Linked DNA regions of Homo sapiens: region 1 is linked to region 2. Evidence: fine-mapped expression QTL. A gene starts in region 2. The other region holds a variant in brackets. All regions are shown on one strand. Distances are between the middles of the regions. Region 1 has its middle 38 kb from the start of MRPS23. Region 2 holds the start of MRPS23 (mitochondrial ribosomal protein S23).

The links.
Region 1: its variant is fine-mapped to the expression of MRPS23 in whole blood (TOPMed, PIP 0.94).

Annotation. Positions count from the first base shown.
Region 1 is chr17:57,804,567-57,820,288 of GRCh38, forward strand. No RefSeq gene overlaps it. Among named protein-coding and RNA genes, the nearest start is that of MRPS23, 38 kb to the right of the region's middle. RefSeq lists an enhancer at 6,061-6,947. The variant C/G (reference allele first, on the strand shown) is at 8,633.
Region 2 is chr17:57,841,003-57,856,724 of GRCh38, forward strand. MRPS23 (mitochondrial ribosomal protein S23) reads right to left here and starts at 9,042. Exons shown (of 5, transcript NM_016070.4): 1 at 8,965-9,042; 2 at 8,238-8,408; 3 at 181-258; 4 at 1-50. The coding sequence starts at 9,008. RefSeq lists enhancers at 5,230-5,837, 9,023-9,352, 9,028-9,537.

The DNA of each region.
Region 1 (15,722 bases), 36 kb before region 2:
TTAACATCCTAGAGTATGCAGCCTTCTGTATCTTTCTCTGAGATCATTTAATAGTATACAACCATTCCCCATATATCTCTCCCTCCCCCCTCACACACTATGACACTGTCCTTGCTGATTGCTTTTTGCTTTTGCTGCTTAACATTATATCATGGTACCATGGGGATTCCTCCAGGTCAACATGTATGGGTTTAATGCACTCTTTAATATTTCTATAATATTCTATAATATTTAAGTACTATAATTTACCTAACATTCCCCTATTAATGGAAATTCAGATTCTATCCAGCTTTTGCTACTAGAAACAACCTTGCAATAAATATTATATGTATATATCTCCTTAAAATACATTCTCATATTGGGATTGCTGTGTCAAAGGATTTTTTTTTTTTTTTTAGATAAGGGGAGTCTCACTCCATTGCCCAGGCTGGAGTGCAGTGGCATGATCAGAGCTCACTGTAACCATAAACTCCTGGATTCAAGTGATCCTCCCACCCCAACCTCCCAAGTAACTAGATCTATAGGCACACATCACCAAGCCTGACTAATTTAATTTTTTTTTTTTTTTTTTTGGAGAGATGAGGTCTCTCTATGTTGTCCAGTCTGGTCTCAAACTCCTGGCCTGAAGCACTCCTCCAACTTCAGCCTCCCAAGTAGCTAGAACTACAGATGTATGCCAACAGCTAGGATGTGTTCATTTTTAATTCTAATACTCACTTTGAGATTGCTTTCTTAAAAGGGTTTAGCAATTCATATATCCATTAACAATGTATGAGAGTCCCTGTTTACTCACACCGTTGACAACATTGGATGTTATCAATCTTTAATTTTTGCCAATCTGATGACTGAAAATGGTATTAATTGTTGTTTTATCTTGCAGTTCCCTGACTACAAATACAGTTGAGTGTCTTTTCATGTACTTATCAGCTATTTGTATTCTCTCATCTGTAAAATGTTTGTTCATAGGCTGGGCACAGTGGCTCACACCTGTAATCCCAGCACTTTGTGGGGCCAAGGCAGGTGGATCACCTGAGGTCAGGAGTTCAAGACCAGCCTGGGCAACATGGTGAAACCCCATCTCTACTAAAAATACAAAAATTAGCAGGGTGTGGTGGCACATGCCTGTAATCCCAGCTACTCGGGGGGCTGAGGCACAAGAATTGCTTGAATCTGGGAGGCGGAGGTTGCAGTGAGCCGAGATTGCGCTATTGCACTCCAGCCTAGGTGACAGAGCAAGACTCCATCTCAAAAAAAAAAAAGTTTGTTCATGTGCTCTGTCCATTTTTTAAAAGCTTTGTCTTTTTTTCTTATCAGGTTACATATTAGGAATGTTGTTTCTTGTCTGTTGTGTGTATTATCATTAGTCTTTTGACTCAGAGTGACTTGATGATTTTTGTCCCTTCCTTCTCAGCTTCACTCGTGAATGTCAACTTTCACCATTTTTTCTAACTTAACCGTCAAAGATATGGGACTGGGAAGAGGCAGACCATGACCATAGAACAGAGAGGAGGCTGAAGTCATAAGAGAAGAGTTTGCTCTAGGAGGCTGGGAAAACCAAGTTGGACAGCATTTGGCATCTATAATACTCTTTGTTCTGCTTTAAATGGTCCTCCTCTTATGGGAATAGAACCCTTCTCCCATATCCCTTTAGCCAGCTCACTCCTACTCATCCTTCAAAACCCAGCTCAAACATCACTGCCTCTGAAAAGCCTTCTCTGATCCACCCACAAGCTGACCTGGAGACCCCTCTGTGCATAATTCTATTCTAGCACTCGTCACATCACCCCCTGACCCATCAGTTTCTTGTCAGTCTCCCTTTCAGACTGAGTGCTCCTTTAGAGCAGGACACTCCCTGAAGCACAGTTCCACCCTCAGGATCTAGCCCCTCTGAGAGTATTCAAAAAAGGATTTGAACAAATTTAGCAAATTGTTCTTCAGCAGCACTGTGCCAGGTGCTGTGGAGGTGACAGATGGATTATAGCACATGACCCCTGATCTCAGAGAGATCAAAAACTAGCTGAGACATAAGAACGCACTAACATTGAAACAACAGCCTGTGAAAGCAATTACATTTAAGTAGACTATTATGTCATTGAGAATGCACGTGTTCCAGAAGGCCTGGGCTGCATGTGCGGGGGGCACAGGAAAGAATCAGGGAGAATGTGGGACTTGATTTGGGTCTTGGTTGTGGGCGAAGTCTGGATGTGGGACTTAAGGGTGGGTGGGATTTGGACAGAGGGTAAGAGGAAGTGAGGGCAGCTGGTAAGAGGGCAATGGGCAAAAGTATGGGTGTTATTTTTAAAGACAGGGTCTTGCTCCATCACCCAGGCTGGAGTGCAATGGCACAATCATGGTTCGCTGGAATCTCAAACTCCTGGGCTCAAAGTGATCCTCCTGTGTCAGCCTCCCCCGTAGCCAGGATTCTTCAATACCTCCATAATATTCTATAATATTTAAGTACTAGAAACAGTGGAGGGACTGAAGTGACCAGAGCAGAGAGTTTGTGCTGGGAAGAGGAGGAAAACTGAGTTGGACAGCATCTAGCCTCCCGGCAAGGAATTTCTGAATTATGGATAAATATGCATATTGCCTCCCAGATTCCAAGAGCTGATTATGGCACTCTGCCACGTATGCTGAAGATGTGTTCATGTGTTTCTCCCACTCAACTGTGGGCTTCTGGTCAGTCTGGAGTGTAATTGGCAGAATAATGCCCCTCTCCCCTTACCCACCCCCACGCACAAAGATGTCCACAGCTTAATCCCTGGAACCTGTCAATACGTTTTGTTACATGGCAAAAAGGAATTAAGCTAGCAGCTGGACTTAAGGTCACTAACCAACTGACTTTAAAACAGGGAGATGATCTGGATTATTGGCGTGAGCCCAATGTAATCACATGGATCCTTCAAAGTGGAACAGAAGCAGAGAGTCAGAGGGAAATGTGACTACAGAAGGTCAGGGTGACACAGTGGGAAGGATTTGGCTCAATGTTGCTGGCTTTGAGAATGGAGGAAGGCTGGGCGTGGTGGCTCACACCTGTAATCCCAGCACTTTGGGAGGCCAAGGCAGGCAGATCACCTGAGATCAGGAGTTGGAGACAAACCTGGGCAACGCGGTGAAACTCCATCTCTACTAAAAATACAAAACTTAGCTAGGTGTGGTGGCACATGCCTGCAAACCCAGCTACATAGGAGGCTGAGGCAGGAGAATTGCTTGAACCTGGGAGGTGGGGGTTGCAGTGAGCCGAGATTGCACCACTGCACTCCAGCCTGGGCAACACAGTGAAACTCCGTCTCAAAAACATAAAAAAGAGAATGGATGAAGGAGGCAAGAAGTCAAGGAATGTGGGGGGCTCTAGAGGCTGGAAAAGGCAAGGAGATAGGCTCTCCCCAGAGCCTCCAGAAAGGAACATGTCCTTGCCAACATCTTGATTTTAGCCCAGGAGACCCATTTCGGACTTCCAACCCAGAAAACCATAAGACAATTAGTATTGTTTAAGGTAGGGAGGCCCCGACCCCCAGGCAGTGGACCGGTACCAGTCAGTGGCCTGTTAGGAACCGGGCCACATAGCAAGAGGTGAGTGGCAGGCGAGCAAGCATTACTGCCCAAGCTCTGCCTCCTGTCAGATCAGCGGTGGCATTAGATTCTCATAGGAGAGTGAACTCTATTGTGAACTGCGCATACGACGGATTTAGGTTGCACACGCTTTGTGAGAATCTAATGCTTGATGATCTGAGGTGGAACAGTTTCATCCACAAACCATCTCCCCCCACCCCATCCCCATCCATGGAAAAACTATCTTCCACAAAACCAGTCCCTGGTGGCACAAAGGTTGGGGACCACTGGTTTAAAGCACTAAATGGAAGGTAATTTGTTACAACAGCAATGGGAAACTAATATAGGAGGGACCTATATGTGCATACGTCTCATCTGTATTTACATACATGCATAACTTGGCTCCAGTAAATTGAAGTGTTCAGAAATGATTACTTAATGAAATTACATAAAGAATTCCTTTCGGTCAGGCGCGGTGGCTTATGCCTGTAATCCCAGTACTTTGGGAGGCTGAGGCAGGAGGATTGCTTGAGCCCAGGAGTAACAAGACCAGCTTGGGCAACATAGCAAGACTTTATCTCTATTAAAAATAAAAAAAATTTAGTCAGACATCGTGGTGCATGCCTGTGGTCCCAGCTACATGAGAGGCTGAGGCAGGAGGATTTCTTGAGCCCAGGAGGTTGAGGGCTGCAGTGAGCCATGATCATGCCACTGCATTTCAGCCTGAGTGACAGAGGGAAGAGACCGTGCCTCAAAAATAAATTATTTTCATCACAGTATTATTTACAGTAGCAAAGACATGGAATCAACCTAGGTGTCCATCGATGGTGGGTTGGACAAAGAAAATGGTGTACACATACACCAAGAAATACTATGAATCACTAAAAGGGAATGAAATCATGCTCTTTGCAACAACATGGATGCAGCTGGAGGCCATTAGCCTAAACCAATTAACGCAGGAACAGAAAACCAAATACCATGTGTCCTCACTTATAAGTGGGAGCTAACCCTTGGGTATTCACGGACATAAAGATGATAACAATAGACACGGGACTATACTAGAGTGGGGAGAGAGGGAGGCAGGCAAGGGTTGAAAAACTAACTCTTGCGTTCAATGCCCACTACCTGAGTGACAGGAATCAATCATACCCAAATCTCCACATCACACAATATGCCCAGGTAACAAACCTGCACCTGTATCTCCTTAATATAAAACAAAAGTGGAAATTATTTTTTAAAAAAAGAATTCCTCTTGTTTCAACATCTCTCCCAGAAAACAAAAACCGAACTCCATCCATATACCCATTGCTTGTAGCCGTGTGCTTCAAGTCAGTTTGCTCTTTAGCACAGACTTTGATTTCGCTATTATAAATAACACTATAGCCAGCCAGGTGCAGTGACTCACACCTGTAATCCCAGCACTTTGGGAGGCTGAAGCGGTGGATCTCTTGAGGTCGGGAGTTTGAGACCAGCCTGGCCAACATGGGGAAACCCCGTCTCTACTAACAGTACAAAAAAATTAGCCAGGCACAGTGGTGGGCGCCTGTAATCCCAGTTACTCAGGAGTCTGAGGCAGGAGAATCACTTGAACCTTGGGAGGTGGAGGTTGCAGTGAGCTGAGATCACGCCACTGCACTCCAGCCTGGGCAACACAGTGAGACACCATTTCAAAAATAAATAAATAAATAAAACTAGAGCAAGCATCTTTCCTCTGTTTTTGATGAAATTTGTTTATCCTAAATGAAATTAATGAGTCAAAAATGACGCACATTTTGTGTGGCTCTTCACTCATTTAGCCAGCTTACTTTCCACAGAGTTTGCACTAATCTACACACTCACTCACAACGTGGGAGAGCACCACCCTCTGCCACAACTGGGCCCGGCAGGGGACACATGCACAGTCCCCTCCTTGCACATTCAACTTTTTCCTGCTCCAATATCGACTGCATAACTTCAGGCTCAAGTGGGGCCCTCCACAGTAAGCAGAGATCCTAAACACTGCGTTGTGGTAGAAAAAGTGATTTCTCTGTAGCCACAAGGAACATTCTTTAGGGATAATGCTGGTCCAGGAGGGAGGAGTCTGAACATCCCTAGTTTATTTTATCAGCAATTGCAATGAGAGGGTTTTGTTTGTTTGTTTGTTTGTTTGTTGGAGTTGCAAGAGATGATCTGCCTGTTCAGGGAGCTGGTCATCTTCCACTGCCCTCAAATAGAAAGCCTGGAAATTGTACCTGACTGACCCAAAAGAAAAAGCTGGTTTATTTAAAAGTCTGGTTCCTTTATCCCCTTTGCAATACAGTGGTAGGTTTTTGGTTTGTTTTGTTGGTGGTGTTTTTGTTTGTTATTTTGTTTGTGTTTTTAACGAGTTCTTTGGTGACTATGCTAAAAAGACCATCATGGAAGCAAGAACATCAATAATTTTTTCACCCACTTCCAGCCCCCAGGACAGAGACAGACCTGGAGGCTTCATCGTCCCTTAGGACTGACTATCTTCCTTGCTTCAGGGAAGAAAAAAATCGTATGACAATGTTGCTTGCCTTGGCTTGCCTGTGGGTGTGGGGGATACAGTCCAGGCACGGAGAGGCACCCGAGTAGGAGCAGGATAAAAGGGCCTCCCAGAGATTTAGGCTCAGAGACTCCAGGGAGATTGGGCAGTCGCTGTCCCAGACGCTATCATGAGCTCTCAGCCTGATGCTTCCATGTGAAATGGGGCCAATCAGATCTAGCCCTAGGACGACAGTCCCCCCCTGCACCCAGAGGCACAGTCTGGGACTCTGGCAGGCCTAAAGTAACTAGGTTTTGCCTGCACATGTTTGATCCAAAGAGTGGAAAAAGCCTTTGGACTCCGGAGGTCTTCACTGGGGTCCTGGCCGCTCTCCAGACTTTCCTCGTGACCGGGGGCCTTCGGTTCCCTGGGCCTCGGGTTCTCTCTCTGTGAAGTGGCCAAACAATCCTGCCTCCCAGGGAGCGAGCACGCGGCTTGTCCGGGGAGAAAAGAGCAACAAATATTTATAAATCCATCACTGAGGTGGCGCTGAAACAGCTGACGGAGCGAAGCCTGACCCAGTCGGGTCCCGGGCCCTCCACGGGGGTCTGCGTCCTCCCGCTGCCTCCCACCCACCCCTGACAGGGCGGGGCAGACCTCTCGGGCAACTTCCCAGACTATGAATTTCCTTTGGCACTTTGAGGCTCCCCCAGGAGGATTCATGAGACCGCAGCAGGAAATGAGGAACATATTTTTAAATCAGAAGGGGGAAGCAATGTCTTTCTGTCAGATAAGTGGCCTGGATCCAGGGCTGAGAGACTGTGGCGCATTTCTCCTCGCAGACAGCAGGTGCTCTTCGAGATGTGGTTATGGCAACAAAATAAATGATGGATAATTGCTTTTGTGACAACTTGCCAATTAAATTAGACTCAGCAGAATAACATAATGACAATTTGTTATGCTCCGATGGGCACTAACATACCGATCATAATTAAATGCTATGACTGAAATAGAATACCGCTCAACGCAGGAATATACAACCCCAATTCCCTCTCTGTGAAACTTTATAGGTTGAGGCTTGATTTTAATTTCAGGAAGATAATGGCATTAGCTCATATCCGAGTGGGTTTGTGGAGAGGCCTGTGGTGAGGGGAGATGGGCCTGAGCAGGAAGGCGATGCCTGTAAGGAAACACCCGGGGGGCTGAACTCCAAGGTCAAGGGGAAGGGCTGAGGAGCCCTGTCGTGAAAATAGTGCTTGCTGGTCTGGGAAATGGAGGCAAAGGAGGAGCAGAGCAGGGAAATGGAGGCAAAGGAGGAGGCCCTCGCCCATGGTCTGCAGTGACAGGGCCCGTGCTGTGAACAACTCCAGGCCTCCACGCTGAATGTGTGGGGCATGTCCTTGAACAAGGAGCCCAGACTCACAGGTGATGTTAAAGAGGAGCTTAGGGGCGACTTGGTGCTAGGCATGTACAGCAAGTAGTAGAAGTGAGAAGTCCACTCAGTCTGCAGATGCCCTGCCTTCCCCTGCCCCTGGTGACAGCTGATTGGGCCAGAAGTGAATAGCTGACCCAAGGTGGGCCAATCAAATTCTTCCTCTGGAAACTTTGCAGGTGAGCTACTGAGCTAATTCTATAAAACAGTCATACATGTACAGATTGATGTGTAAGCACTTCCCTATATTATAATATACATACAGGACACGCACATATAAAAGCTGCAACTCGACTGTCAAAAACTTGACCTAAACGTGATATTCTAGGTATTGATTGTGTATTCAAGTTTTAATATATTTGTTGATGAATTCCCAAACCATTCCATAAAAGATTTGAGGTGGCTTTTGAAAAAATCAAGTAAGAATAATTCTGTTTGCTGTTTTTAGAGTTTAAAAGGGGTTTCTATATAGACAAAAAGGATAGTTGGTGAGGTCTCTCTCTCTTTTTTTTTTCTTTTTTTCTTTCTTTTTTTTTTTTTTTTGACAGAGTCTCGCTCTGTTGCCCGGGCTGGAGTGCAGTGGTGCAGTCATAGCTCACTGCAGCCTCGAATTCCTGAGCTCCAGTGATCCTCCCACCTCAGGCTCCCAAGTAGCTGGGACTATGGACGCGCACCACCAGACCTGGCTAACTTTTGTATTTTTTTGTAAAGACAGGGTTTCACCATGTTGCTCAGGCTGGTCTCGAATTCCTGGGCTCAAACAATGCACCTGCCTTGGCCCCCCAAATTGCTGAGATTGCAGGCGTGAGTCACCTCACCCAGCCTCTCACTTTCTTGCTTACAAATCTCAATTTTTTAAAAAACAAAGTAATGCAAAAATAAATTATATATTTAGTAATCTAAAGTGTTTAAAATAAAAACTCATGCTCCTCAATCCTACTCCCCAGTGATGATCACTGACATCAACTCGGTGTATATCCTCCGAGCCTTTCTTCTCTGCCTGAGCCATCCTTTAAATGTGAAAATGGCTCCAAGGTTATTTATGGGTACAATGATAGGGTATATGGGATTTGCTTCACATTAATCCATGGGTGAAGGAGACAATGAATGGGATGGAAAAAGAATAGCCAAGAGCTTAAAATTGTTGCAACCAGCCGGGCGCA[C/G]TGGCTCACGCCTGTAATCCCTGCACTTTGGGAGGTCGGGGGGAGTGGATCATTTGAGGTCAGCAGTTCAAGACCAGCCTGGCCAACATGGTGAAACCCCGTCTCTACTAAAAAAAAAAAAAAAAAAAAAAATTAGCTGAGCGTGGTGGTACACGCCTGTAATACCAGCTACTCGGGAGGCTGAGGCAGGAGAATTGCTTGAACCTGGGAGGCGGAGGTTGCAGTGAGCCAAGATCGCACCACTGCACTCCAGCCTGGGCGACAGAGTGAGGCTTCATTTCAAAAATATATATATACATATATATATATGTATATATATATATTTTTTGCAACCAGGTGATGAGATGTGGAGTTTCATTACACTATACTCTTTACTTTTAATGTGTTTTAAAAATTCTACGGGTGGTGGCTCATGTCTATAATCCTTGCACTTTAGGAGGCTGAGGCGGGCAGATCGCTTGAGGTCAGGAGTTCAAGACCAGCCTGAGCCACATGGCAAAACCCCGCCTCTACAAAAAATACAAAAATTAGCCAGGTGTGTTGGCTCATGCCTGTAGTCCCAGCTACTGGGGTGGCAGAGGCAGGAGAATTGCTTGAACCTGGGAAGTGGAAGCTGCAGTGAGCCGGGATCTCACCACTGCATTTCAGCCTGGGTGACAAAATGAGACCCTCTCTCAAAAAAAAAAAATATACAGTACACCAGGTATAGTGGCTCATGCCTATAATCCCAACACTGGGAGGTCAAGGCAGGAGGATCCTGCCTTGAGGTCAGGAATTCTAAACTGACTTGGTCAACATAGTAAGATCCCCGTCTCTACAAGAGAAAAAAAAATTAAGTTAGCCCGGCATGGTGGTGAGCACCTGTAGTCCCAGCTACTGAGGAGGCTGAGGTAGGAGGATTGCTTGAGCCCAGGAGTTCAGAGCTGCAGTGAGCCCTGACTACATCACTGAATTCCAGCCTAGCTGACAGAGAGAGACTCTGTCTCAACAAACAAACACACAAACAAACAAAAACTACAATCATAGCTTACATTTTTAACTACTGTTTTACCTTTTTTTCTTTTAAAAAATAGAATTTTGCCTTATGTGCCATTCATCAGTTTACTCTTTAAAAAAACTAACAGCTTGTTGTGGACATAGCTCCATGTCTGCACAGCTATTCTTTCTCATAGTTTTCCATTGTATGGATTTTCTACAACTTAACCAACCTCTGTTACCCTGAAGGACTATTTGCAGTGTTTTTCTATACCAAAGAATGCTAAGTAAACACACTTAGGCATACATCTCTTCTCTCTTGAAGAAGGTTTCCGTATGACACATTCCTAAAAGCATAATTTCTGGCTCAATGGGAAAATGTATTTTAAATTTGACTGCAACTGCCAGGCTCTTCATCAAAAATGTTATGGCAAGTCTTAGTTTTGTCAGCTATGGATGCCTTTTTATCTGTATCCTTCCAAAACACTGAGTACTAGCAATCTGTTTAATTTTGGCTAATTTTGATAGGGAAACTACATCTCCTCTTGGTTTTAGTTGTGTTGTTTTGTATTTTGTTGCTAATTTAGAGTATCATTTCATGCTTTCTATGCCATATGTGTTTCTTCTTTGTGACTTGCCCAGATGTCACCTGTGTTCATTTATCTATGGTATTTCTTTTTCTTACTGATCTGTAGGACATTTTTGTATATTATGGATGTTATACTTTTATCAGTTACGTATGTTTAAAATATTTTCTTCCATTCTTTAACTTTTGTTTGTGACATTTTTCACCATATAGAAGTTGTTATTGTTGCTTGTTTGTTTATGTAGTTAGGACTGTTGTTCTTTTCCTGCTGTCTTCTGGTTTTTGTGTCATGCTCAAAAAGGACCTATTTTTTTTCTAGCACTTTTATTGTTTTAATTTTTATTTTTAAGCCTTTAATCCATTTCGGATTTATTTCAGGTATGGAACCAGAAAACGGGCACAGGAACCAAATTTGAATTTTCTCTGAAATTCACAACCTTTCCCTGTTTATGTAATAAACCATCCTTTTCTCACTGATGTGAAATGCTATTTTTGTCATATATTTAATTATCATATATACACAGATTTTTTTCTAGACTCCCTGTTGTACATATTCCCCTGGTCTAATTGCCTATTCCTATACATGTACCATGCTGTTTTCATGGTTGTTGCTTTATAATACATTTGATAGCTAGTATTATATACATAATATTATATGCTTATATTTCAAATTTTTATTTTGGCTAATTTTATCCTTCCAGTTAAACTTTATTATCAAGTTGCTAAGTTAAAAATAAAAACTGCAATGAGATCTGATTAGAAATGTTTTAGTTGTATATATTAAGTTGGGAAAGGTGGTCCAAGTTTCTGAAAGACAAAACTATCCATGGATGCCCACACATACCCTGGATGCCATGACCAGAATTCAGTGTGCTCAGGTTCAGTCTAGGAATGATCCAGCCCCACACTCATGTCTTACTTCACTCAGCCTGCTCTGTATTCAACTCCTGTTCTCTCTTCCCATTGGGTTCTGTCTTTGCACATTTGGGCTGCTACAGCAAAATACCTTATACTGAGTAATTTGTAAACAACAGAAATTTATTGCTCACCGTGCTGGAGTCTGGGAAGTTCACAATCAAGGCACCAGCAGATGCAGTGCCTGGTGGGGGCCTATTCTTCATAAATGGCACCTCTTGCTACATCCTTACACAGCAGAAGGGGGAAACAGGCTTCACCTCTTTTATTTTTATTTTTATTTTTATTTTTGAGATGGAGTTTCGCTCTTGTCACCCAGGCTGGAGGGCAATGGCATGATCTCAGCTCACTGCAACCTCTGCCTCTCAGGTTCAAGTGATTCTCCTGCCTCAGCCTCCCAAGTAGCTGGGATTACAGGTGCCCACCACCATGCCAGGCTAATTTTTGTATTTTTTAGTAGAGACAGGGTTTCACCTTGTTGGCCAGACTGGTCTCGAACTCCTGATCACCCACCTCAGCCTTCCAAAGTGCTGGGATGACAGACATGAGCCACCTCAACCAGCCACTCCACCTCTTTTGTAAGGGACTAACCCCATTCATGCTGCCCTCATAACCTAATCACTTCCCAAAGGCTCTACCTCTTAATACCATCACCTCACGGGTTAGGTTTCAACATATAAATTTTGGTGAGACACAAACATTCAGACAAGCTCTAACTCTAATTCCTACTTGCCTATGAGTTATGTTTCTCTAGCCTTCGAATCATCTCCTTCTCTCCCAGAATGGCATGGCTGGTCTTCTCTCTTTTGACCATTGTGTAATCCACCCCCTCATACCGGTGAGACCTGATGCTTCCAGGCTGGTTCTACCCATGGAAGCTGGCCAGTAGGATCAGGATTAGACAATATCTTCGATGCCATAATAACAGAAGGAAATTTCAAAATCTTCTAGCTTAAACTCCCTCCTTTGACTTCATTCCACAACACAAAGATGACCATGGGGCTCAGACAAATAAAGTCATAGAATAACTGATGGGATAGGAAAGGTATTTTGAATTTTTTGGCAGTAGTGACAGGTGACACCTTTCTCTAGTGTCCACCTTCCCGGTCCCCTGCAGAGAAGTGGAAAGGAAATAGTCTAGGACAATGCTGTCCAACAAATCATTCTACCAGTTCCAGAAAGAGACTGTCTTCATGGAGATATGAAGTTTCTCCTAGCCAAACTGAACTTCCTACCATTTCCTGCTATTAGGGTCCCATGGGTGTTTGACAGGCCCAGGACTAGGGTGAGGCAAGAGCTGAATCTGCACTCACATGACCCAAGTGTGAGGGACTCGCTACACTTGTTCCTAGGTGTCTCACTTGCCTCACCCTAGTCCTAGCCCTGGAGTTGGGTTGTGTGTCACAAATGCTGTGGTCCCCTCCCCAGATCCCCTCTTCACCTGTTCCAGCTCTGGGGACTAAGCTCACAGCTACAACCCTCATTGAGAATTACTCTGGCCACAAGGAACTTCCCTGCCCAATATTATACCCCTTCCAGGGGGGACGTCTATGATCAAGGACTGGCTGAGGCAGGGATGAAAACACCTACTTTTTTTTTTTTTTATATCACTTTAGAAGAACTCTAAAAGAGCCATCCCCTCATCCAGAGCTCCAGAGCCTCAGCTCCCACAATGAATTAAGAACTATGATGCTTGGTGGGTTTCATCGGTTCTGGAGGTGCCACAGTCCACACTGTGGAACAGTACTCTAACCCTGCAGGTAACAAAGAAAGCTGCCAGCTTTGAATGGGACCCAGAGCAGGAAAGGGCTCTGCAGCAGGTTCAGGCTGTGGTCAGAAAGCCCTGCCTCCCGCGCTGTGTGACTCGGCAGGCTCTGTGGTCCTAAAGGCTCTGTGTTTTTTGTGGAGGAAGAAACACCACATGGAGTTTCTGGTGAACACCAATAGGAAATAATATTATAGATTCCTAGAGTTCTGAAGCAGGGCATGCCATCTGCAAGAAAAGCTACACACCCATTGAAAAGTAGCTCCCAGGCCAGGCGCGGTGGCTCAAGCCTGTAATCTCAGCACTTTGGGAGGCCAAGGCGAGCGGATCACCTGAGGTCAGGAGTTCAAGACCAGCCTGGCCAACATGGTGAAACCCCGTCTGTACTAAAAATACAAAAATTAGCTGGGCATGGTGGCGGGTGCCTGTAATCCCAGCTACTTGGGAGGCTGAGGCAGGAGGATGGTCTAAGCCCAGGAGGCAGAGCTTGCAGTGAGATCTCACCACTGCACTCAAGCCTGGGCAACAGAGTAAGGCTCCATCTCAAAAAAAAAAAAAAGAAAGAAAGAAAAGAAAAAGAAAAAGAAAAGTAGCTCCCAGAATGCTACTGGATCCTGGTAGAGATGAGGCTTCTGACCAAGTGACACCAAGTAACCAGACAACTGTAGCTCCCCATCATGAACTGGATCTGTCAGATCCACAGAGTCACGAGGGCAGGCAAGCCCAGTAGCAATCAGTCGTTCGATGGAAGCGGTACATTTAGGATCGGCACCCGGAAGCTGCATGGGCAGGTAGCCCAGGCTCCCATGTCATGTGTCAATATTTCCCTGGGCCCTGGCCCTCAGCAATCACCTATAGCTGCATGAGGGCTTCCTTACGGCCAGCTGACAGCAGAAGCAAAAGGCCAAGTTCAGTTCATAGAAGGGTCAGCTCAGTGTGGCAGTGTGAGCTGGGGCTGCTGCCAGTCGGTGGAGGCAGGGAGGAATACGTTTGGCATTTGGATAATCCACTGGGGCATTTCTTGGTGTTCCATACCCATTTTAATGATAATGGGCAAGTACAACAACCAGGTCTTGAAAAGAGCATGGTATCCATGTGGTCAGAACCCTCAGGAATGAGGGTCCAGGTCATCCCACCCAACAAGTCTCTTAGACCAGCAGAGATGCCAGCCAAGGGCAGGAAGACTCTGGTACAGGTGGTGGAGAAGGGGCATAAGGAGTACCAGGTAGAACCTTGAGATCAAATGCAGCATCAGAGTCTGTGTCTGTCCCATTAACCCTTCTCTTGTCAGTTTCCCCAGGAAGCAAAACTCACTACAATCATAAATAAGCCATCAGAGATGGGGCAAACTTACTACAAGAAACAAGTGACTCTGAGCCACTTGAAGGGTCATCTGTCACAGACACTGCCCACCCAGATCCCTTTTCAGGGCCCACACACCCATCCCCTAGCTACTGAGAATAGGGGCTGCTAATGGCTCAGAGGTTCATCCCTCATTGGGAAATGCATGACCCAAGGCACATCCCCTCCTGGGGGAGAGCCTTAGTCAATGACTGGCTGATGGGGGATGCAAAGGCCCAGCTCTCTCACAGTAGGACAGCTCTGGAGGGCCATCCCAGCTCCAGAGTTCCCTGTAGAATTAACTGAGGTCTCCATGGCCAGCACATTGTGGGGCAGCTACTCCCTCTGCCCCGTCCTGCCTCCCTTGCCCCCTTACAAGTACATCTCCCAAGAACACTCCTAATTAATGTTCTGCGTGCAGCTCTCTATCTCAGAGTCTGTTTCCAGGGAGCCCAACCTCAGACATCTCCCAATCTCAGGCTGAGATACTGGGAAACACAAATGATACTGACTCAGTCCCCTGACTCAAGGGACCCAAACAGTTACACAGTGATCTGCCAATCAACAGTTGAGCCTTTGACTGGTCTTCAGGTTGGTTGTTTCCAACCTGTTCCCTCTCACTGGGATTAAAGGAAATTACCCAAAAGAAAAAGAATGCAGCCTATACCACACTTCAATGGTCACGTCCATTCATGTGCCGTCCTTCCCCACTTGAAACCAAATAACTGAAAAAACTTTCCATAGTAATAGTGAAGGCTTCAGCAAGACTGGACAAACCCAGGGACCTCTGCTAGGAAACATGACTAAGCTTGTCCTTCTGAATGAAAGAGGAAGGGCTATTAGCATTGATGAGGTCCACAGGGAATTCAGTGTTATACAGGAATATTTTTTGTATATGACAGAGAAAAATGTAGAAAACAGACTGATTGATTGACAGACAACCTAATTTTTTAATCTGGACATCTTTAATAAATTCTGTAATGCAGGATTATCAATCTTATCTCACCTGGATTTCTACCCTTCACAAAGAGATGGCCTTGATTTTAGAGGCCAGAGTAAGTGCCTTCTTTATCAAAAGGCTCACTGTCAATGTCCAAGTTGAGCGGCCCTGGGTCAGTCCTCAGGAACAAAATTTCATCAACTTTTTATGGTAAGAGAGTTTTTCTGACTAGTTACACATAGGTAATCACTCTCTTTACATAAAACCTTCCTGGATTTGAAGTGCAAGCAAAATGCAAATGCCACTTTCATCTGGATGCGGTAATGCGGCTCCAAGAAGCTAAAGTCACTGTCGCAAGTTTCACATTGGCAGAATGCCGAATTCTTAACATCCAGAATCTCTTTTGACTCCTTACAACCATGAGAAGCAGGGGAAATGCTCTTATTATCCCCATATTGCAGATAACCAAACTGAAGCTCTCAGAAGTTAAATAACTTGCCCAAGATTCCAAAATGTGTCAGAGCTGGACCCCAACCTGGTGTGTCTGATGTAGAGCCGTGTTTTTAAA
Region 2 (15,722 bases):
CTTCATCTGTTTCTCCAAGTTTCTGTAGCTCAGTGTACTTCTCCACAAACCTGTAATTCCAAGCAGTCACATTTTAGGTATGTTTGTAAGCATTGTTAAGACGCTGTTACACAATATCAAATGGATAACAAAATCCTTAAAAAATAATATGAATAGCCTAGGACTTATAAAATGGCTTACCGTTGACAGGTAGACTTGAAGTTTGGATTGAATAGATCAAAAGCTCTTTGACCAGACCCATACACTGAATAAAACTTCCTAGAAAATGCAAACAACATAATATAAATCTCCGATTATAGACTGTGGATGAGAATGGAATAAAAGAAATAAAGAATAAGTGCTAGGCACTGAGGAGTTAAGTACGGTATAACCCACATAGCCTAAGCTGAACAGTTTTGTTTTTTTAGATAAGTAATGCACACATGCACATGGTAAATACATCAAATAGCACAAAAGGGTGGCCAGTGAAAAGTAACACTCCCTCCCACTTCTGCACCCCAGCCCCCCAGTTCCCTTCCCAGGAAGCAACACTAACAAATTTCTTGTATATCCATCCAGAAATATTCCACTAATATACTAGCATATATGCACTATCATTCCCTGTCCCCAGCCACATTTTTAACCCCAAGAATAGTAAACCTTGCTCTACATCTTGCCTTTTTAAAAACTGAGGTATGGCTAGGCGCAGTGGCTCATGCCTATAATCCCAGCACTTTGGGAGGCTGAGGCAGGCAGATTACTTGCAACTGGGAGTTCAGCATGGTGAAACCCCATCTCTACTAAAAATACAAAGAAATTAGCAGGCATGGTGGCATATGCCTGTAGTCACAGCTACTTGGGAGGGTTAGGTGGGAGAATCACTTGAACCCAGGAGGCAGAGGTTGCAGTAAGTGGAGAGCGCACCATTGCACTCCAACCTGGGCAACAGAATGAGACTCCGTCTCAAAAAATAATAACAAAATAAAAATAAATAATAAAAACTGAGGTAAAAGTCACACATCATAAAATTAACTTTTTTTTTTTCCAAAGAGACAGGGTCTCACTGTGTCACCAACGCAGGTAGCAGTGCTGTGATCATAGCTCACTGCAGCCTCAAACTCCTGGGCTCAAGCAATCCTCTTGCCTCAGCATCCTGAGTAGCTGGAACTACAGGTTCGCAGCACCACCATGCCTGGCTAAGTTTTAAATTTTTGTAGAGATGCAGTCTCACTATGTTGCCCAGGCTGGTCTTGAACTGCTAGCCTCAAGAGATCCTCCCACCTTGGCTTCCAAAAATGCTGGGCTTACAGGCATGAGCCATTGTCCCCAGCCCACATTTAACATTTTTCAGTGTGCAATTAAGTGACATGTAGAAAACTCACAAAGCTGTGCAACTAGCACCTCTATCAAGTTCCAAAACATTTTCATCACCCCCAAAAGGAGGCACTGTATCTGAGCAGTCACTCCCCATTTCTCCTCCCTACATCTTGCCTTATCAGTGCCATGGAGATTGTTTCCAGTCCTTTACTACTCTAAACCATGCTGCAATCATTATCTCTATTTATAATTTTAGTGCACTACGTAAATAAGTCTGTGGCATAAATTCACAAATGTGGTACTACTGGATCAAGGTATGTGCATTTGTAATTAAGCCTTCCAAATTGCCAAAATGCTTTCCAAAGTGGCTGTACCAATTTACATTCACATAGGTAATATACGAGCACCTATCTCCCCACACCCTGACCAAATGACATTCTCCAGCTGAGCATAGAGGCTCACGCATATAATCCCACCTGCTTGGGAAGCTGAGGCATGAGGATCTTTTGAGGCCAGGAGCTCACCACCAGCTTGGGCAACATGGTGAGACCTGAGACCCTGTCTCTAAAAAAAAAAAAAAAATATATATATATACACACACACACACACACACACACACACACACACACACACACACGAGGCAGGTGCAGTGGCTCACACCTGTAATCCCAGCAAAAATATATATATATATTTAGACCAGGCGTGCTGGCTGATGCCTGTAATCCCAGCACTTTGGAAGGCCAAGGCAGGAGGATCACTTGAGGCCAGGAGTTCAAGACCAGCCTGGGCAATATAGTGGGACACCATCTCTACAAAAAAAATTAAAAATTAGCCAGGAATGGTGGCATACACCTGTAGTCCCAGCTACTCAGGAGGCTGAGGTGGGAGGATCACTTGAGTCCAGGAGGTCAAGGCTGCAGTAAGCCATGATAGGCACCACTGCATCCCAGTCTGGGTTAGATCCTGCCTCAAAAAAAAAAAAAAAATACACAAACACACACACACATGTTCTCCAACTTTTTGATCTTAGCCAACCTAATAGGTAAGAAACCAGAACTCTTTATAGTTTTAATTTGCTTTTCTTTTTAAAGAGACTGGACATCTTTTCAAGTTTAAAAGCAAACTGAATTTCCTTTTCTGTGAACTGTCCAAGTTCTTTGTCCGCTTTTCTATTTGGTGGTTGCTATGGACTAAACGTGTCCCACCAAAATTACTATGTTGAAATCCTAATCCCCATTGTGATGGTATTTAGAGATGGAGGCTTTGGGAGGTAATCAGGTCATGGTAATCAGCCCTCATGATGGGATTAGTGCCCCTATAAGAGATAGAAGAGAGCTTGCTACCACTCTCTGCTCCCCTCAATGTGAGGAATCAGGAAGACAGTCCTCCCCAGAACCTGACCCTGCTGGCACCCTGATCTCAGACTTCCTAGCCTCCAGAACTATGAGAAAGAAATTTCATTTGTTTATAAGCCACCTGGTCTATGGTAATTCGTTACACAGTGGTCTCTTTCTTAATGATTTCTAAGCAAACTTTGTAGCCATATACATAGAAAATTAGTCCTTTGTCATAACATTGCAAAGATCTTTCCCAGTTTGTTGGCTGTCTTTTGATTTTGCTTACAGTACTTTTTTATACAGAAAATTTTAATATTTTCTTTTTATGGCTTCTGAGTTTTATATCATGCTTAAAAAGACCTTTATCACTCAGATTATTTTTTTAATTCTCCCATGTTTTCTTCCAGTACTGTTATGATCTCACTTTTTACACTTAGATTTTAATACATCTTTTTTGTTTGTTTTATTTATTTTGTTGTAAGTTCCTTTTTCTTTTTTTTTTTTTTAAGAGATGGGGTCTTGCCATGTTGCCAGGCTGTTGTGAGTGCAGTGGCTATTCACAGATACAATCATAGTGTACTACAACCTTGAACTCCTAGACTCCAATGGTCCTCCTTCCTCAGCCTCCCAAGTAGCTGGAACTACAGGCATGCACAACCACTCTATAAGCTTTTTTAAATATCAAAACCACCAAAAAAAAAGAGGGCCACAAAGATAAAGGTTCAATAAATTATATAAATACAAGATAATATTTTGGTGTTAATAGAAATAATTTTTATATATTCTGACAATAGTAAAAAATTAAAAAATAAAAAAAGAATTTAAAGAAATAATATTTAACAGGCTGGGCATGGTGGCTCATGCCTGTAATCCCAGCACTTTGGGAGGCCAAGGTAGGTGAATCACTGGAGGTCAGAAGTTCAAGACCAGCCTGGCCAACATGGTGAAACCCTGTCTTCCTGAAAATACAAAAAAAAAAAAAAAAATTAGCCCGCCGTGGTGACACATGCCTGTAATCCCAGCTACTCGGGAGGCTGAGAAGGAGAAATGCTTGAACCCGGGAGGTGGAGGCTGCAGTGAGCTGAGATTGAACCACTGCACTCCAGCCTGGGAGAGAGAGAGAGAGCAAGACTCCATCTCAAAAAAAAAAAAAAAAAAGTAATATTTAACAAGAGGGACAAGTAAACTATTCCACATTCTCCAATCATTTATCATCCAGTCCAAATCTACAGCAGAAGCACAAATGATTTTTTAAATTTTTTATTTATTTATTTATTTTTGAGTCGGAGTCTCACTCTGTCACCCAGGCTGGAGTGAAATGGTGCAATCTCAGCTCACTGCAACCTCTGCCTCCTGGGTTAAAGCGATCCTCCCACCTCAGCCTCCAGACTAGCTGGGACTACAGGTGCATGCCACCACGCCCAGCTGATTTTTGCATTTTTAGCAGAGGTGGGGTTTCACCATGTTGCCCAGGCTGGTTTCGAACTCCTGACCTCAAGTGATCCACCCGCCTCGGCCTCCTGAAGTGCCAGGATTACATGTGAGAGCAAAGCACAAATGATTTTAATGTATCAATGAACCACAAAGTGCATGCAATGGGTCTGAGAAGAAAGGTGCTGAAAAAGCATTTAATCTCCTCAAAGATCTCATGTTGTATGCCGAAAATATCCAAGTAGAACAAGAACATACTTGTTCTGCTACTTTAAATGAGTGTTGGTGTTGGGGGTCCCGGGGTGAAAGCCTGGGCCCCAATTCGGAACATAATGACCTTATAAATTCCATTTTCTAGCATCCTGAAACAACAGTAAGAATAAGGGATGTGTATCAAAGTCAATTAGGCACACTCATTGGTATAAATATTTAAGAGAAAAAGGAACTAGACAAATTCAAGGTACTAAAAGCTAATTAACATCAGTATTCAAGGGGAGGGGCTTTGTCAGTAAACTCCCAGTGAGAGATTTACCACTTACTTAGATCTTACATAAATGTATAGGGATGCTAAATGTGGCCATAGAAGTGGTTTCTAGCCCACTGTTCCTGAAATTGTTTCAGAAAACTAATAAAATTCTGATGGCCATTCTCCAAACAGTCCCAGTCCTGGCCCTCCACCATTCCTCTCCAAGGAATTTTCTTTCGTTTCTCTCTACCAGCCTCATAGTTCATCTGTCCATTAATCCATTAGCTTCTTCATTCAAGAGACGATTAATAAGCAACTTATATGCCACACAATGGGCTAGGCACTGAAGTTACAAGAATGAATTTGACAATGCCTGGCCCATGACAGTGCTTAATGAATGTTTGTTATTGAATAAAGACAGGGCATTTGGAATGTAGAGCTATTAAAGACAGGCTAAGGCCACAACAGGGGCAGTATGAACAAAATTCAGGGCACACAAAAGGGGAAACATGAAAACAGAAAAGTAGTCCCAAAGAAGTGTGACATCTTTGTTTTTTTTTTTTGTATGAAAAAAATAAGGTGGGGGGCAGCCCCCACCCAGCCAGCCGCCCCGTCTGGGAGGGAGGTAGGGGGCAGTCCCTGCTCCGCCAGCCGCCCCGTCCGGGAGGGAGGTGGGGGGCAGCCCCCGCCTGGCCAGCCGCCCCGTCCGGGAGGGAGGTGGGGGGTAGCCACCGCCCGACCAGCCGCCCCGTCCGGGAGGGAGGTGGGGGGCACCCCCGCCCGGCCACTGCCCCGTCCGGGAGGTGGGGGGCACCTCTGCCCGGCCGCCCCGTCTGGGAAGTGAGGAGCCCCTCTGCCCGGCCGCCACCCCATCTGGGAGGAGTACCCAACAGCTCATTGAGAACGGGCCATGATGACGATGGGGGTTTTGTCGAATAGAAAAGGGGGAAATGTGGGGAAAAGAAAGAGAGATCAGATTGTTACTGTGTCTGTGTGGAAAGAGGTAGACATGGGAGACTCCATTTTGTTCTGTACTAAGAAAAATTCTTCTGCCTTGGGATGCTGTTAATCTATAACCTTACCCCCAACCCCCTGCTCTCTGAAACATGTGCTGTGTCCACTCAGGGTTAAATGGATTAAGGGCGGTGCAAGATGTGCTTTGTTAAACAGATGCTTGAAGGCAGCATGCTCGTTAAGAGTCATCACCACTCCCTAATCTCAAGTACCCAGGAACACAAACACTGCGGAAGAACGCAGGGACCTCTGCCTAGGAAAACCAGACACCCTTGTTCACATGTTTATCTGCTGACCTTCCCTCCACTATTGTCCTATGACCCTGCCAAATCCCCCTCTCCGAGAAACACCCAAGAATGATCAATAAATACTATAAAAAATAAAAAATAATAAAAATAAATTAAAAATAAAAAATAAAAAAAAGAAAAAATAGAGAACTTTAAAGATATTTTTAAGAATGTTGCTAGGAGGCCGGGCACGGTGGCTCACACCTGTAATCCCAACACTTTGGGAGGCAAGGCGGGCGGATCACGAGGTCAGGAGTTTGAGACCAGCCTGACCAACATGGTGAAACCCCATCTCTACTAAAAATACAAATTAGCCAGGCATGGTGGCGTGAGCCTGTAATCCCAGCTACTCAAGAGGCTGAGGCAGGAGAACAGCTTGAACCCGGGAGGTGGAGGTTGCATGGGGCTGAAATTACACCACTGCACTCCAGCCTGGGTGGCAGAGCGAGACTCCATCTCAAAAAAAAAAAAAAAGAATGTTCCTAGGCAACCATTAGGAGCACATTTTCTGTGACTATTTAAGTTTTGGAAAAAAAGAGAATAAAGAGGCCGGGCGCGGTGGCTCACGCCTGTAATCCCAGCACTTTGGGAGGCCGAGGCAGGCGGATCACGAGGTCAGGAGATTGAGACCATCCTGGCTAACACGGTGAAACCCTGTCTCTACTAAAAATACAAAAAATTAGCCAGCTGTGGTGGTGGGCGCCTGTAGTCCCAGCTACTCAGGAGGCTGAGGCAGGAGAATGGCATGAACCCGGAAGGCAGAGTTTGCAGTGAGCCGAGATTGCGCCACTGCACTCCAGCCTGGGAGACAGAGTGAGACTCCATCTCGAAAAAAAAAAAAATACTTAGATCAGAAAAAAACAAAACTTTTTTTTTTTTTGGAGACAGGGTCTCCCTCTGTTGCCCAGGCTGGAGTGCAGTGGTGCACTCTCAGCTCACTGCAACCTCCACCTTCTAGTTTCAAGCGATTCTCCCACCTCAGCATCCAAAGTAGCTGGGACTACAGGTGCCCACCACCAAGCCCGGCTAATTTTTGGTATTTTAGTCAAGACAGGGTTTCACCATATTGCCCAAGGTGGTCTCGAACTCCTGAGCTCAGGCAATCTGCCCACCTCAGCCTCCCAAAGTGCCAGGATTACAGGCGTGGGCCACCGTGCCTGGCCCAGAAAAAAAAAATTCTTAAATAATCATTATCAATACTGACAAGGATAAAGTAAGAACTCTCAGAAACTGCTAATCAGAGTGTAAACTAAGACAACTACTTTTTTTTTGGTAGAGACAAGTCCTGCTATGTTGCCCAGGGTGGTCTCAAACTCCTGGGCACAAGCTATCCTCCCTTATGCCTCCCAAAGCACTAGGATTACAGGCACAAGCCACCACATCCAGCCTGTGATTTCTTTTTATGCTTTCTTTGTGTATCTAAATTTTCTACAAGTAGCATGTGTTGCTTTTATAATAAAAGAGGAAGTATTCTTGCCACTGAGCTTAAGAAAAAGAAAAAAAAAGAGAAAAGGGATGCTAAAAAAAAATAAAGAACACATGATTTTCCTTCAAATTCCTAGTGATTGTCTCTCTCTGTCGCCCAGGCTGGAGTGCAGTGGTGGGATCTCGGCTCACTGCAACCTCCACCTCCCAGGTTCAAGCAATTCTCCTGTCTCAGCCTTCCGAGTAGCTGGGACTACAAGCACCCACCACCATGCCCGGCTAATTTTTGTATTTTTAGTAGAGACGGGGTTTCACCATGTTGGTCTGACTGGTCTCGAACTCCTGACTTCAGGTGATCCGCCCGCCTTGGCCTCCCAAAGTGTTGGGATTACAGGCGTGAGCCACCGCACCCGGCCTCTCTTAGACTTTCAAGCATCCTTTCATCTGAGTGGCTTCAAAGAGCCGGACTACTAGATCCACAGACCACGTTCCTCCTATCTCCACTCGTGGAGAAGGCCGGCATAATGATCACCATAAGCTTGGAGTCAGAGATGTGATTCCCAGATCTGCCACCCTCCTATATATTTAGTAATTACAAGAAGTTAGCTAATTTCCTTGAGCTTCGCAGTCTCCTTGAATAAAATGGAAACAAGAATGCCTTCCTTACAAGTTAGAGTAAGGCCTTTAGAGAATGAGATAATGCTTGCAAAGAGCTTAGTACAGTGCCTGGCCCAAAGCAGATGCCCAGAAACATGCGGCTATAATTGCAATGATCTTTCGGTTGCTGGGCTCCAGATTCCACTTTTCAGAACTTCAGTTTCACTATGAGGAAGGGGTGCTGCCTCCCTAATTTGGCTAGATAAGCCTTCTCCACAGGGCAAACCCCTGACTCAATTTCATGTTTGAATTCCCAGACTGCTACCGAAACCTTCCCTTCTGAAGTTCTGTTGCCTCCTGTCCACTACAGGGCTGAGCACTCACGCTCTAATCCGATCCTCGTGGTACCAGATGTCTTGGATGGGAGCTTTGGCTTTGCCATATCGCACTCGAGGCCTTTGGAAGACGGGCTCCCTCAGCGGGGGAAAGGCGTCATATACGTCAAACCACAGGGGCTTCTCCTTCAGCACCCCGGCCCGAACCAGGTCCCGAGTCCTTAGGGAGGGAACAGAACGAAACTGGGTCACTTGCAGTAGCCTGCCAAAGCCCCTGAATCAGTCTAGCACAGTTTGGGACATTAAAGGTATTATGCGGTCTGCAACACAGAACGGGGAAGGACTGCTCCCCACCTACAGAGAAGATCTGTCCACATCCCAAACCAAACTTAACAACGCTCAGGAGAGTTAAATCCCTCTATCTTCTTTTGTGCGTCCCACCCACGTTCGGTCACGGAAAAATGCAAAGAGCGGTCTTGCATGACCTGATAAGGAAGGCCCATCAGGCTCTTCCTCCCTTCCTCTTCCTAGAGACCTCCACTCGGGGAGAGGCAGCTGCAATAATCTTTAACATGACACATAAATTCAAGGAGAGGCATCCTCAGGCACAACTATTCGGAGCCAGGAGAAAACATGAGAGGGCCTCACCCAGCTCAGCCCCCGCACCCTGCAATACGCCTCGCCCTGCTCAGGTCCGCTCCAAGGAAGAGCGTGACCGGCTGAGAACCCCAGCCTGGGGGAGGCACCCTCAGCCCACCACGGCTGGGAGCACACACCGAGAGAAGATGCTCCCTACGGTTTCCAGCCGGCTGCCTGCCATGATCTGCGCCTGGTACCGAGCGTGACTAGCTGCTACCGGAACCGGAAGCGGCTGCTCCAGGTAAAGGGCGCATAAGTTGCTGGCCGAGCCAAGGATCGCTGGGCTTTCACCGCAGCCCCTGCGGGAGAGCGGCGCAGGCAGAAGCAAGTGATAGGCCGAACGGGCGCGCTCCGAGGTTACTTGCCAGGTTCAGGCAGGAGCACTCGATAGCCGAGCCAAAAGGGCAGGAGCGAGCCAAAGCCGGACAGAAGTAATAAATGACCGAGCTGTGGGAGGGATTCATCATGATGGTTGCTTTACTCTCTCTCGCCTTGTTGAGCCAACTCCTCTGAAAAGGTGGGGCCGCGCGGAGGAGAAGTAGTGGGGCAGAGCAGGGGTGAAGCGCAGCCTACAGTCCTAGGGGAGCCAACAAAGGCCGAGATTTGAGGTCACCAGCTCTAGGCCCAGGCTGAGCCTAATGTTGTTTAGAGTCACAGACTACGCAGAAGAAAACCAAGGCCGGGGAGGGGCCGTCACTTGCCCAGCGTCGTGCTAGATCTCGGGCCTCCGCCTCTGGCTGTGTAGTGCTCCCCACTAAGCCCCTCGTCCCCGGAGTGCCACCTGCATCCACGCTAACTAGGATGCTGGCTGCAACTCGTGTTTCCCGCGGCCGGTGTCGCGGGCTACCTCCTCCTTGGAACTCGAAAAGTGAAAGTGTCCGGAACAAACAGACGCCGAGAGGGAAACGAAAAAATCTGGAGAAAGTCATCTCTCAGTGTTAAACTGTAAAAAAATATAAACTGTGTGTAGCATACCCTTTGACCCAGTAATCATATTTCGGGGAAAGAACCCCTTAGAAATTAAAGCATCAATTCATGAGGATGTTTGTGCAAGGATCATCGTTGCAGCATTGTTTGTAGTGGGAAAAAAAATCCATCAGATGAGAAATAGCTGGAAAATTATTGTTCATACTTTCTTTGGAACCCTATGCAGCTATTAAAATGAATGAGCTAGATCCACATGTATTTACCAAGGTTAAGGTACATGACTTATGTTTAAATGAAAAACGAAGTTGCAAAGAAACATGTTTAGTGGAATCTCAACGTGTTAGAAAAAAAAAAGGAAAAAGAAACACCTCTATATATGTTTGTGTTTGAGGATAGAAATTCTGCAGAAGGACACCCAAGGCTGTGAACATTGGATATCTCGGAGTGAAACTGCAGGCAGGCAAGGGAGAATTTTTTCTTCCTTTACACATGCTTCAGAGTTTGACTTGTAAAGAGATTGTATTCATATTTGAACTTTTAATCCAATGAATGTTTTGAATCACACACAATGTCTCCTGGGAGCCTAGTCAAGTCATCCTAGAGTCCTCCCACTCTGAGGCTGGTGAAGGGGAGGACGGGACTGTTTGATGAGTAGTTACTGCTTGTGTGTGTTATCTTACTGAATCCACATACCTTCCCATAAGGTAGCTATTAACATCCTCATTATAGATGAGAAAGCAAGGCCTCAGGAAGTTACATAACTTGTCTGATAAGCAACTGATAGAGCCAGCCTTGGGGGGGTGGGGCAGCCAGGGCCCTTTCCAGTGCCTCACAATGCCGCCTAAGCTATGCCTAAAGCTCGAGGCTGGTAGGCTCAAGAGTCCAGCAGAACGCCGCTCCCCACCCGCCCCCCCCACAACACACACACACACACACACACACACACACACACACACGCACGCCAGGGATCCAGTGATTTGAGGCCCAGGGCTAACCTGAGGTGGATTTCACTGCTGCCTCCAGACCCTCTGGAACAGAGAAGAGAGAGCACAGCTCTGGCCCCAGGCCAGGTGTAAAGGCTCTAGTATCCCAGCCCTCAGGAGGTCTAAAAGACCTTGCTCTGGGGAGAGTAAACATGCTCCCAGCTAAATATAGTCTTCCCAGGCCTCATAACAACTTTCTAATTCTGTCCCAGCCAGCAAGCACTATCTGCCAGCCCAGATTACAGGCACACTTCTCTTCTCCCACCAGGAACTGCTACTGTAGGTTAGTGCAGTCACTGCAGCTAAAGAGTTAAAGGGTTTATTCCAAGATCAAGGAGGGGAACCAAAGACGCAAACCCTCAATAGGGGAAGAACTGCAAGGCAGAAATGTTCTCGCTAATCTTGGGGTGGTCCCTTCCTCTTCCAAGCCTTTGAAGTTTCCCTTTCCAGCCTGCTTCTGTGACTGAGAGCAGAATATTGGTGGGCAGACTTGGGGGTACTTTGGGGATAACAGCCTTCTGAGGCTACACAAGAAGTACACACCCAAGAAACATTCATTCATAATACAGGAGCAAGCTGTCGGGCAGCAGGGGGCAGGCAGAATGGACATTTGAGGCTGTCTTCTTGAGTGGGGACCACAGCCGCCCAAGGCTGTGAGGGCCTGGGGCACTTACACCACGCACCACTGTGCCGCGGGAGGTACCAAGGAACCTCAAGTGTCTCATTCAGTTGTTCAACCACCTGCTGACATAGGTAATGTCCTGCTAATCTTACAGATAAGGAAGTGGTGCTTGTAAACTCCCAAAGGCCATGTTCCTACAACACCACTCGGCCTCATATTAATCCCACTGTCTCATTGTAGACGTGCCCACTAATTGCTTCACTCTGAGCAAGTTATGTAACTTTTCGAGCCTCTGTTTCTCCAACTGTTAAAATGTGGAGCTGGGCTCAGTGGCTCATGCTTGTAATCCCAACATTTTGGGAGGCCAGTGTGGGAGGATTGCTTAAGCCAGGAGATCAAAACCAGCCTGGGCAAAATTAGCCAGGTGTGGTGGTGCATGCCTGTAATCCCAGCTACTCAGGGGACTGAGGTGGGAGGATGGCCTGAGCCCAGGAGTTCAAGGCTGCAGTGAGCCATGATCACACCACTGCACTCCAGCCTGGTCAACAGAGCCAAGACCCTGTCTCAAATAATAATAATAATAATAATAATAATAATAATAATAATCTGGATGGCAGTGTCAACTATCTTCGTGGCTTGTTGCAAAAGTAAAAGAGATCATTCATGTAAAGCACTAATCACGGCACCTGGGACATAGTGAGTGCCTGTGAGCAGCAACAAGCCTGATGGCTGTAACAGCAACACGATTGCTGTTGTGCTGTGTCATCCACCCATTGCCACCTGGACTGCAGCATTTTGATAATATTTCATAGATTGCCTTACTGTTTTACTTTCTTGTTAGATGATCCGTTCGTTCCAGAAGCATATAAACACCTACCTGACTATTCTGAGTCTTAGAGAATCCAACGGTCCAGTAGGGAAGACAGAGAGGTAAATACATAAATATTAAGTTATGTGCTGAATAGCTTGTTGATTGTATGAAGTTTGCTAGGCCTGCCCTAACACCACTTGCACACAAAGTGGGTGGCTTAAACACAGATTTATTTTCTCCCTATTCTGGAGGCCAGAAGTCCAAGATCAAGGTGTCTGCAAGTTTAGTTTATTCTGCACTTGGCTAGTTTCTCCTTGCCTTGGAGACAGCTTTCTTCTCCCACGTCTTCACATGGTCTTTCCTCTGTGTGGGAAGGTTTTGTCCTAATCTCTTCTTATGAGGACACCAGTCTTATTGGATTAGGGCCCACCCTACTGACTTCATTTTAACTTAATTACCTCTTTAAAGACTACCTCCTATTATAGTCACATTCTGAGGTACTGGAGTTAGGACCTCAACATATGATTTTTGGGGAGACACAGCTCAGCCCCTAACATAGATCAGTAAGTGCTGAATAGTTCCCATTTGCCCAAGCAGTTCCACACCCACTCTCTGCCGTCCTTCGCCCTGTTCTGTGCCTCGGGAGGCTGGCTTCTGTGGCCTGCATCCACCAGCTCCTTGCCCTCTGCTTCTGGCTGGATTCCAGTTGGTACTGCCAGCGGGCTCCCTCCTGGAACATAAAGTTCTAGAACATAAAATCACAGCTCTCTCACCAGGTTCCAGCCACCGTCCCTCTCCTGCTCCTTCAAGCCTAGACGTAGTTGGCAAGCTGTACCCCTCTGTTATTAGCCACGGGGTCTAGGCCATCCCTTGTGGCTTCCCATCACTCTGCCCACATCTTTGTGACAATGCCCGTATTTAAATAGTGCGTGGAGGTCAGGCGTGATGGCTCATGCCTGTAATCCCAACACTTTGGGAGGCCAAGGCGGGTGGACCACTTGAGGTCAGGAGTTCGAGACCAGCCTGGCCAACATGGCGAAACCTCGTCTCTACTAAAAATAAAATAAAAAATAAAAAATAAAAAAAATTAGGCGGGTGTCATGGCACACACCTGTAATCCCAGCTACTTGGGAGGCTGAGGCAGGAGAATCACTTGAACCCAGGAAGCGGAGGTTGCAGTGAGCTGAGATTGCACCACTGCACTCCACCCTGAGTAACAGAGCAAGACTCCGTCTCAAAAATAAATAAATAAATATTGTGTGGGAATTTGTCAGACAAAATGAGGAAGAGCATCATCCCCAGTAGTGGAACAGCTTTGGTAAGTGAAACTCCCAGCACACTGATGAAATCATGAATGCTGCTACTCACCTATGACAGCTAAAATCAGGGAGCAATTAGCTTTAAAGGGAGGAAAGCAATACAGTATATTCAATACACAGTTTAAGAATTATGTCAGGCCAGCTGTGGAGGATCATGTCTGTAATCCCAGCACTTTGGGAGGCCAAGGCGGGAGGATGACTTGAGGCCAGGAGTTTGAGACTAGCCTGGCCAACATAGCGAGACCTTGTCTCTACAAAAAAAAAAAAAAAAAAAAAAAAAAAAAGAAGAAGAAAAGAAGAGAAAGAAAAAAGTTAGCCAGTGCAGTGGCACAAGCTGGTAGTGCTAGCTACTCATGAGGCTGAGACAAGAAGATTGCTTGCGCCCAGGAGTTCGCAGCTGCAGTGAACTATGATCGTGCCACTGCACCCCAACCTGTGTGACAAAGTGAGCCCTTTTCTCTAAAAAAAGAGAGAGAGGATTATATCAGGATCCGTTAAAAAAAAAAGAATTGTAGGCTTCCTGAGTCTGAGGACCAGGAGGATGAAGGGCAGGGAGGGCTATTAAAGGAGGAGGCAGCCAGGCACAGCTGCTCACGCCTGTAATCCCAGCACTTTGGAAGGCCGGGGTGGGTGGATCACTTGAGGTCAGGAGTTCGAGACCAGCCTGGCCAACGTGATGAAACCCCGTCTCTACTACAAATTTAAAAATTAGCCAGGCATGGTGGTTGGCACCTACAATCCTAGCTACTCGCTACTTGGAAGGCTGAGCCAAGAGAATTGCTTGAACCCAGGAGGCGGAGGTTGCAGTGAACTGAGATCGTGCCACTGCATTCCAGTTGGGGCGACAGAGCAAGACTCCATCTCAAAAAAAAAAAAAAAGGGGGGGGGGAGTCAGAGTACCTTCTCTTTCCTTCCGGCTGTTGGGCTTGTGCCCCTCTCCTGAGAGCTCCCCTTCAGACCCCCTTCCTAGGCTTCAAGGAACTGTCAAGAATCAGTTCAGGTGGAAAAGCTTTTCAGCCCCCAGCACACACTCGGTAAGATCGGGTGAGTGCCCAGACCTGCTCCCTCCCTTCCTATGCTTATCTCTTTCAGGGCTATGTCTGTGTTGTAACTCTGTTTACCTGTCTGAGTCTGGCTACAGGGGCCTTTTTGAGGGCAGGAACTAGGACTTTTAGCTCTGCCTCCCCACACCCGGCCTGGTGCTTGGCCCACAGCTCTCAGAGTTTTCCAGTGAACAGCATGGATAAATAAAGCCAAGTTAGGACAAATGAGGATGCTGTCATCTCAGCCTTCCCTTCACTGCCTGTGCATACCCAGCCCTCCCTCTCTCCCAGGCCCAGCTTTCCTTTGAGGCCTTCCCCAGATACACAGATAGGGAGAGAGCTGTGGGTGAATGGAAATAATCCCCTACCTCACCATTCACTTCACATCGTGAGCATTTCCGGTCTGGCTGTCCTCTGTGCCTCACTGACAGATAGTTCTCTTTTACAGTCCTCTGGGCCTCAGCTTCATTTGTAAAGTGGGGATAATCATAGCACCTAGCAGAGGGTTTGTAGTGAGGCACCAGTGGGTTCATACCTGCTAAGTGTTTAAAACAGTGCCCGGTATATGGTAACTACTCAATAAATAGAGTGATGGTAATTTCGGACTACGCTTTAGAGCAACAGTGTCCTTCAATTAAATCTCACCTGAGGCTGGCTGCCATGACTCATGCCTGTAATCCAGCACTTTGGGAGGCCGAGGTGGAAGGATCGATTGAGCCCAGGAGTTTGAGAGCAGCCTGAGCAATACAGAGAGACCTTGTCTCTATTAAAAATCAAAAAATTAGCCAGGCGTGGTAGTATGTGCCTGTAGTCCCAACTACTCGGGAGGCTGAGGTGGGAGGATCGCTTGAGCCCTGGAAGTCGAGGCTGCAGTGGGCTATGATTGTGGCACTGCACTCCAGCCTGGGTGACAGAGCTGAGACTCTCTATAAAAAAAAAAAAAAAAAAAAAAAAACCTTACCTAACAACATACAAGCTACTATTTTCCTTTCCTCTTGCCTTTCGTTTTTTTTTAGATAGAATCTTGCTGTGTCACCCAAGCTGGAGTGCAGCGGTTAGATGGAATCTCGCTCTGTCACCCAAGATGGAGTGCAGCGGCGCAATCTCGGCTCACTGCAACCTCCACCTCCTGGGTTCAAGTGATTCTCCTGCCTCAGCCTCTTGAGTAGCTGGGATTACAGGCGCTCGCC